Linked DNA regions of Homo sapiens. The protein of the gene in region 1 purifies or fractionates together with the protein of each later gene. This does not show direct contact. Each region holds a gene or a part of one and is shown on either strand. Other genes may lie near its edges. The genes, in order: METTL23 and UGGT2.

Evidence for each region.
Region 2: the proteins of METTL23 (region 1) and UGGT2 purify together in Homo sapiens (affinity purification with mass spectrometry, with the first as the bait; one study listed by BioGRID). This does not show direct contact.

The regions. Positions count from the first base shown.
Region 1 is NC_000017.11:76,725,511-76,729,947, forward strand, and holds the start of METTL23 (histone-arginine methyltransferase METTL23), read left to right. Parts: upstream 1-1,328; 5' UTR 1,329-1,668; exon of another isoform or gene 1,669-2,020; intron 2,021-4,179; 5' UTR 4,180-4,195; coding exon of another isoform or gene 4,196-4,200; coding exon 4,201-4,284; intron 4,285-4,437. Other genes in the region: bifunctional arginine demethylase and lysyl-hydroxylase JMJD6, read right to left, coding at 1-345, 837-965. UniProt on the Homo sapiens protein: Histone methyltransferase that dimethylates histone H3 at 'Arg-17', forming asymmetric dimethylarginine (H3R17me2a), leading to activate transcription via chromatin remodeling.
Region 2 is NC_000013.11:95,948,697-95,952,505, forward strand, and holds part of UGGT2 (UDP-glucose:glycoprotein glucosyltransferase 2 precursor), read right to left. Parts: intron 759-3,809; coding exon 639-758; intron 1-638. UniProt on the Homo sapiens protein: Recognizes glycoproteins with minor folding defects. Reglucosylates single N-glycans near the misfolded part of the protein, thus providing quality control for protein folding in the endoplasmic reticulum.

The DNA.
Region 1 (4,437 bases):
ATCAGTGAAAAACTTTGGCACCTTGTAGTCTTCCAAAAGTTTCCTTCTTTTAGGGTGTTCACCATAGCTGCTGTCAAAGATGTAAAGGGGACTATCATCTCGAGTGCTCTCCATGTACTCGATGTAGTATTTCATCTTCATCTTCACTGAGTAGCCATCGTTATCCTCACCACACTTGAACTTCTGGTTCCGATATTTCCTTTTTAGGCGCTCCAGAGTCCATTTCTCCTGCGCAGACCAGCCCTCTTGCGCATTCAACAAAACCACGGGCTTGTAAGGTCTTTCATACCGCTCCACAAATTCTTCCACAGACAGCTGTAAAGCATCTGCCCTTTCCACGTTATCCTGAGGGAATTAAAAAAGACCTGTCCAGTTAAAAAAAAAAAAAAAGTCCAGTGGCAGATAAGGGTGTCCCCAAGGCCAACTGGTAATGACAAACCGAAGGAAGTTGACTCTCGTCTGGCTCCTCCGGGGTGGGGGCAGGGCGCGTGCGTGAGGCCACGTCGTTCCTAGAGCCACCCCCCATGAGCCTTGACAGCCAGGTCCCCTAGGGGACCCGCCGCCCAAAGGAGTCAGGGACGACGGGCCTTCTAGTTGAGAGCGCCACAGGCGTGGGACTCCCGTCGTCCGCCAGAGCAGACGGGCGGCCACAGCACGGGAGGAAGCAGACCCGCCCCGGAATCCGCGCCTCGGGGACCCCAAACTCCGCGGGGTGCGGGTGAGCCTCTACGAGGTCCCGGGCGCTCGGGGCGAGGGCAGCCTCGGGCCCAGAGAAAGGTGCGTAGCGGCTGGAGGTGCCGATGCCCGGCCTGGCCACCCCCGCCCGACCCGCTCACCGCCACGGCCGCCGGGCTCAGCGAGAAGCTCTCGTAGTAGTTGTGCCGGGTCCAATCCAGCGAGTCCTTGAGCTCCGGCCGCGCACTCCGCTTGGCCTCGCGGATGCGCTTCTTGCTCTTGTGGTTCATTCTGCGGGGTCGCCAGCTGGTTCCGCTACGACCTCGGCGCAGCCCGCTTCCTGACACTAACGCACCCCTCCCCGGCCTGGGCGGCGGCGACGGCAGTACCCAAACGCCCTTCGCTCAGTCCCGGCGCCTTTAAAGTCGCCTTCCAGAAAATTCACTCCCCAGCCACCTCCCGAGCCTCGGGTTGGGCAAGCGGCCGCCGTCTTCCCCGCCCCGACGCCTCTCGCGGTTTTCCATTGGCTTTGGCTCCCCTGGGGTACTCCTTCACATACGGCGGGCCTCCGCCATGTTGGGAAGGTCACGTCGGCTGCGTCACCGCCCCGCCCCGCCCCGCCCCTCCCCTCCCGCGCTGCCGCTGTGCCCATCACTTCCGGTCGCGCCAGCCGCCCGTTGCCAGTTCTGCGCGTGTGAGTCTCTTTCGCCTTGCTCCGGGCTTTCTTCGCTCGCAGCGCGGCAGGGTTATCACCAGATCTGGGCTTTCCCCTTCTTGCCGTCAGGTGCTACGGCCACGTGGCCCGCGGCTTCCCGCTCGCGCAGTCTGGCAGCCCGGAGCCTTCCGCGGTCCCCCGCCCGCCCGGGGCCCAACGACGCCCTACTGGGCGAGCACGATTTCCGAGGACAGGGGGTCCGGGCCCAGCGCTTTCGATTCTCGGAGGAGCCGGGTCCGGGGGCCGACGGGGCTGTCCTGGAGGTCCACGTCCCGCAGGTGCGTGCAGCAGCACCCGCCAGGAGGCGCCTGAGGTCAGGAGCGGATGTCGGCTGACTTGGCTGGGTTCCTGAGGGACCGGGGGTGCGGACGCTCAGCTGCGCAGCTTCCTGCTTTAGGTTGACCCCCGGAGCAAAAACGTCGGATATGAAGCCCTTCGGTGCATTAAATGTCTCTCAGTAAGAATTTTGGAGACCCTGCCAAGAAGTGACCCTGGTCACTATGTTGGTCAGGCTGGTCTCGAACTGTAAGCTTAAGTGATCCTCCTGCCTCGGCCTCCCAAAGTGCTAGGATTACAGGCATGAGCCACTGCGCCGGGCCGGCTTTCTCCACATCGAATCTTTCCTGCCAGGAAAGTGACATTCTTGACTGACCTCTAATGCTTCTTTTGATCTTGTCCAAGGGTTTCTTGATTCATCCTTATCTCTCACTTTTGTGTGAGTTTTGGGATCAGGGTTTCCAGTTTTATTTGGTGCCCAAAGTGTTTCTTGGGTTGGACCTCGCTTCTTCCTCTAAGCTCACAGCTACAACAAAACTCTCAATAATAATTCTTTTTCTTTTCTTTTTTTTGAGACACTGTCTCGCTCTGGCGCCCAGGCTGGAGCGCAGTGGCGCGATCACAGCTCACTGCAACCTCCAACTCCCGGATTCAAGTGATCCTCCCGCCTGCCTAAGTGCTGGGATTGCAGGAGTGAGCCACCATGCCCTGCCTGTCTTCGGTTTTTCAAAGCACTTTCACTTTGCAGTATTTCATTTGGTTTTAACACCAGCCTGTGAGGCATGTCCCATGCTAAAGAAACAGCTTTAGAGAAGTTAAATGGGAGGCGGAGGCGGGAGGATCGCTTGGGACCAGGAGTTCCAGACCAGCCTGGGCAATATAGTGATACTACGTCTCTACAAAAAGTAGAAAAATTAGGCATCGTGGCTTGTGCCTGTAGCCCCAGCTACTCCGGAGGGTGAGGTGGGAGGATTGCTTGAGCCCGAGAGGTCGAGGCTGCTGTGAGCTATGATCAGGCCACTGCACTCAGGCATGAGCAACAGAGCAAGACATTGTCAAGAAGAAAAAAAAAAAAAAAGACTGGAGTGGAGGCTATTTCTGATTGTTTCCAAACAGCTTCACTTTTTTTTGCTAACTGCAACCTCAACCTCTGGGCTCAAGTGATCCTCCCACCTCAGCCTTTCAAGTAACTGAGACTACAGGCATTGGCCACCACACCCAATCTGGCTTCACGGATTTTTTTTTTTTTTTTTGGAGATGGAGTCTCGCTCTGTCACCCAGACGAGTGCAGTGGCACAATCTCAGCTCACTGCAACCTCCGCCTCGTGGGTTCAAGTGATTCTCCTGCCTCAGCCTCCCAAGTAGCTGGGATTATAGGCGCCCACCACCATGCCTGGCTAATTTTTGTATTTTTAGTAGAGACGGGGTTTTGCCATGTTGGCCAAGCTGATCTTGAACTCCTGACCTCAGGTGATGCACCTGCCTCGGCCTACCAAAGTGCTGGGATTACAGGTGTAAGCCACCGCTCCCGGCTGGCTTCACGTTTAAATACACTTGCATTTCTTCCTAAATGTAGGGGGTGATGATATTGCCTGTGAGAATAGAAGCCTCTTTCCTTTTTTTTTTTTTTTTTTGGAGTTGGAGTCTTGCTCTGTCGCCCAGGCTGGAGTGCAGTCGCGAGATCTCTGCTCACTGCAAGCTCTGCCTCCCGGGTTCACGCCATTTTCCTGTCTCAGCCTCCGGAGTAGCTGGGACTACAGGTGCCCACCACCATGTCCGGCTAATTTTTTTGTATTTTTAGTGGAGTAGAGACGGGGTTTCACCGCGTTAGCCAGGATGGTCTCGATCTCCTGACCTGATGATCCACCCACCTCGGCCTCCCAAAGTGCTGGGATTACAGGCGTGACCCACCACGCCCGGCCATTTTTTTTTGAAACGTAGTCTCACTATGTTGCCCAGGCTGGAGTGCAGTGGCGCAGTCTCGGCTCACTGCAACCTCCGCCTCCCGTGTTCAAGCGATTTTCCCGCCTCAGCTGGGATTACAGGCACGTGCCACCATGCCCGGCTAATTTTTTGTATTTTTAGTAGAGACAGGGGTTTCACCATGTTAGCCAGGCTGGTCTCAAACTCCTGACCTCAGGTGATCCGCCCGCCTCATCCTCCCAAAGTGCTGGGATGACAGGCCTGAGTCACCGTGCCCGGCCCCTGACTAGAAATATCTTATTTGCTTGCTCGTTGCCTCTCTACAGTAGGATATGTGCTCAGGGAGAGCTATATCCCCAGTCTGAGAATGATCCCTGATACTGTGACACTAGAAGCACTTGTTGAATAAACAGTGCTATCAAGAGTTTCTATCACATTGCATTGCAGTTTTATATCCCCAAAGGTCGTGGATTGGTGAACAGGGCTGCCATTTTTGTAATGGATGCCAATGCCTGACAGAAATTGCTGTATGAATGATTCCAACTTCCAGCAGCTAAATTATTTATGGCACACAAAAACATTCTTTTCAGGTCCTGCATCTCCAGTATGGAATGTATGTTTGGCCCTGTGCTGTGGTCCTGGCCCAGTACCTTTGGTTTCACAGAAGATCTCTGCCAGGCAAGGCCATCTTAGAGGTACAAATGCCCCTGAAGTTTCCAGAGTTCTAGGTTATGTTCAGATGTGTTAAGTTGACATGTGTATATTGCTTGTTTTTAGCTTTTGTTAAATATTTTTAAATCGGGTAATTTAGCTAGTTTGTAAGGTCTGTGAGCTAAGAATGTTGTTTT
Region 2 (3,809 bases), on another chromosome or scaffold:
AAAGTTCTGTCATAAATTCTTTTGAAAAAATGTAAAAGTAACATTAATATGGTTATTATAAAATGACATAAGGGCTAAAGAGTAAGAGGCAGAACATGTGACTAATATGGTTTGGCTGTGTGCCCACTCAAATCTCATCTTCAATTGTAGTTCTCATAATCCCCATGTGCCGTAGGAGGGACCCAGTAGGAGGTAATTAAATCATGGAGGCAGTTGCCTCTATGCTATTCTTGTGATAGTGACTTCTCAGGACATCTGATGGTTTTATAAGGGGCTTTCCCCTTTTGCTCATACTTCTCCTTCCTGCCACTATGTGAAGAAGCACGTTTGCTTCCCCTTCTGCCATGACTGTAAGTTTCCTGAGGCCTCCCCAGCCATGCTGGGGAGTCAATTATACCTCTTTCCTTTATAAATTACCCAGTCTCAGGTATGTCTTTATTAGCAGCATGAGAACGGACTAATACAGTGACATGGCTAGTTGTTGATACCCAGTCAGCCATGCCACCTAAGCTTGCTGCTTCAGGCAAATACTTAACTTCCTTACAACTCAGATGCCTATTCATTGACAGAAGGATAATCCAGAAAGAATGCTGATATCTTTATAAGATATATATGTATAATCAAAATATAAAACTCACCAAATTATGAAAATTGCGCCTTATGGAAGGTACACTTCCAGGAAATACTGGCTTCAGAAGTTTCTGGCAACTTGTAGGCCATGTAATATACAAATCATCATTTTCTAAGTCATTAATCCACTAGAAAAGAACGCAGACACTTGTGAAAGCTATATTAACACTGAAATCATTTTCAAAGCCAGATTTTTACTATATCGTGATAAATAAAAATATACATAGAATTTTCTATATTTCTGATTAAATAGAGGAGCTAGTTTAATATTCTCTAAATTAAGGAATACATTATGTGCAACAATTTTATACTTGTGTAGCCTTTTACATTAAGCCTTCTCTCAAAAACAATTCCTTTCACTTGTGTTTGTTTTTCATATCCCAACGTAAAATTGTATGAAAATTACTCTCCATAAACCACTTAAGAGAGATGAATATTTATTTTAATTATCAGCAGTAAATGAAGCCCTCTCCACCTCCCCTCTCAATTTAAAGGCTTGGATATAAGGAAAATAAAATGGCTTATAAAAATTAAATTATAAAATCAACATCTTAGAAATCAAGTTCTAATCCACTATACAAGCTGGAGAAAACATATAAACTGCTGTTTAGAGGCATGTGGTCGGGGAAGCAACCACCAATCAAGAAGTGAGGCATTATGGTCCTTGAAAGCAGGAGGCATAAGCAGCAAGCTCCACATTCACCTAAACTTCATCCCTGGGTCCCCAGATTGCGTCCTGGAGAAATACTGAGTTGGAAAGCAGAAGTCAAAGTACGGGCTGCCAAAGTGCTGAGATTTGAGGGCAGGATGCAGGGTGAGAGGGTAGGAGAGAAGGAAACTGCAGGAAACCAGAAAAATCTCCATACAAATTCCTCTCAAGTCATTTGCTGACTCCTATCCTGCACATATACATGGTAACACCTCTACAAAAGCCAGAAGGAAAGAGAAACGGAGAGGTTGAAACCACAGCTATAAAATAGTACTGAGAAGACAGAGACCAAAGTCCAAGTACTATATAGTACTATATACACTGTAGACTTTCATTTGAGACCCAGTAAGGCCAGATCCTAGAAGTAAGACACAAAAATAGTAGAGCCTTCACAAAGCCTAAAAACAAGCTTCAACAGAAGCAAGTGAGCATCTGGCACTGAGGATACCAGAACAAACCTTAGCTCTTTGCTTCTACAGCTTTTCATCAATTTCTGGCTCTCACAAAAAAAAAAAAAAGTCATGCAAAGAGAAAAGGACCAAATATTGAAATGAAACAGGAAAAAAAAAAAAGACAATAAAAAACCCCAAAGATTACTTAGACAAGGACTTTAAAATAACTATCAATATATTTTTTAAAAAGTACAAAAATTTCTAAAAAGAAAAATTTTGACAGAACTAAAATCTGTTTAAAAAGAATCAAAGAGATATTTAAGGTTTTTAAAATATAATATTTATAATTAAGAACTCTAAGAACTTATTGGGTGGGTTTAATTGCAGACTGTACGCAGAAGAGACAGGGATTAGTAAACGTGACAACAGATCAACTGTTATAGTAACTAAACTACAAAGAAAAGAATAAACAAACCAAACAAAGTGTGAGAGAGATTAGGAATATATGAAAAAGATCTAGCATATAGGTAACTAAAAATCCAAGAGGAAAGGAGAGAAAGTCTGGAGCAAATAATACTTGAAGAAATTAGGTTTCTACAGTAATTCAGATAATCCAGGTATGAGTTTATTGTGGACTGAACTAAGTCAGAGGCAGTGGCTTCAGAGAAAAGGTGACAGAATTAAGAGACACACACAGATGGATGAATAAAACAGAGGAATTTAGGGTATATGTTCCAATAGCTAAAAGAAACGATGTCTAAATAAAGGAAGGCATGAAGACAAATCAATAAACAGATAAAAATTACAAAAAGAACCAAATAAAAATTTTGGAATTCAAAAGTATAATAATTGAAATAAAAAATTAATGAGAGGAGCTCAACAGCATATTTGAGCAGTTAGAAGAAAGAATTAATGAATTTGAAGGTAAGTCAATGAGCTTACTCAGTCTGAGGAAGAAAAGAGAAAGGAAGATATAGGTGCAGAGGAGTCTAGCCCCAAAGGGGAAACAGGCCTTATCTTGACCCAAAGGCAGCTGAGGGTGAGAATTTGGCAGCTCTTTGGAAAGGGCAATCAGAACTCCCATTCCCAATGGAGCTCAGAATCATACAGAGCCTTCAAGCAGTGCCACTTTTCCTGACTAAAAGCAAGTGTGCCTAGACAGACAAAATGAGACTCTCAACTACAGTGCAACTAAACTTGTGGTCTGAAGACTGTTAATAACCTATAAGTACAGAAATTAAGTGTTCAACAACTTGCAGTAATTTGACATGGCCATGACATTTGAGCATGTATCAGTCTCATTTCACTGAACATGGTATAAGCCAGCTTGGGGTTCATCAAACTCCTGTGGTGTGCCACATGTAGTACAAAATACATATTACAGCACTTTGGGAGCCTGAGGTGGGTGGATCATGAGGTCAGGAGTTCGAGACCAGCTTGGCCAACATAGTGAAACCCCATCTCTACTAAAAATACAAAAATTAGCCAGGCATGGTGATACACGCCTGTAGTGCCAACTACTCAGGAGGCTGAGGCAGGAGAATCGCTTGAACCCAGGAGGCAGAGGTTGTGGTAAGCTGAGATTGCACCACTGCACTCCAGCCTGGGCAATAGAGCGAGACTGTCTCAAAAAAAAAAAGATACATATTAGTCATAGGAGTAGGACAACATATTGATTGGCAACAGGTTAAGGAAAAAATGTTATTCTCTTACTATGGATAGTTTAAGAAGTAGTGCTCTAGCACTTGATGAGGGCTATCTCTGAAAAACCACAGGAAAAAAAAAAGAAGAAAAAAAGAAATTAACAAAAAAAGATACGACGGCCCCAGGCTTTGCTAGGGTCCAAGATGAAAGCATTATCTGTGGTCATTCTGATACTGATAAGATTTTGGCAAAAGATATACCCACCCCCTAGTATCTGTAGGGGGATAGGTTCCAGGACTCCCCGAGGATACCAAAATCTAAGAATATGCAAGTCTCTAACATAAAATGGCATAGTATTTGCATAGAACCTACTCACATCCTTCCATATACCTTAAATCATCTCTAGATTACACGTAATGCCTAATACAATGTAA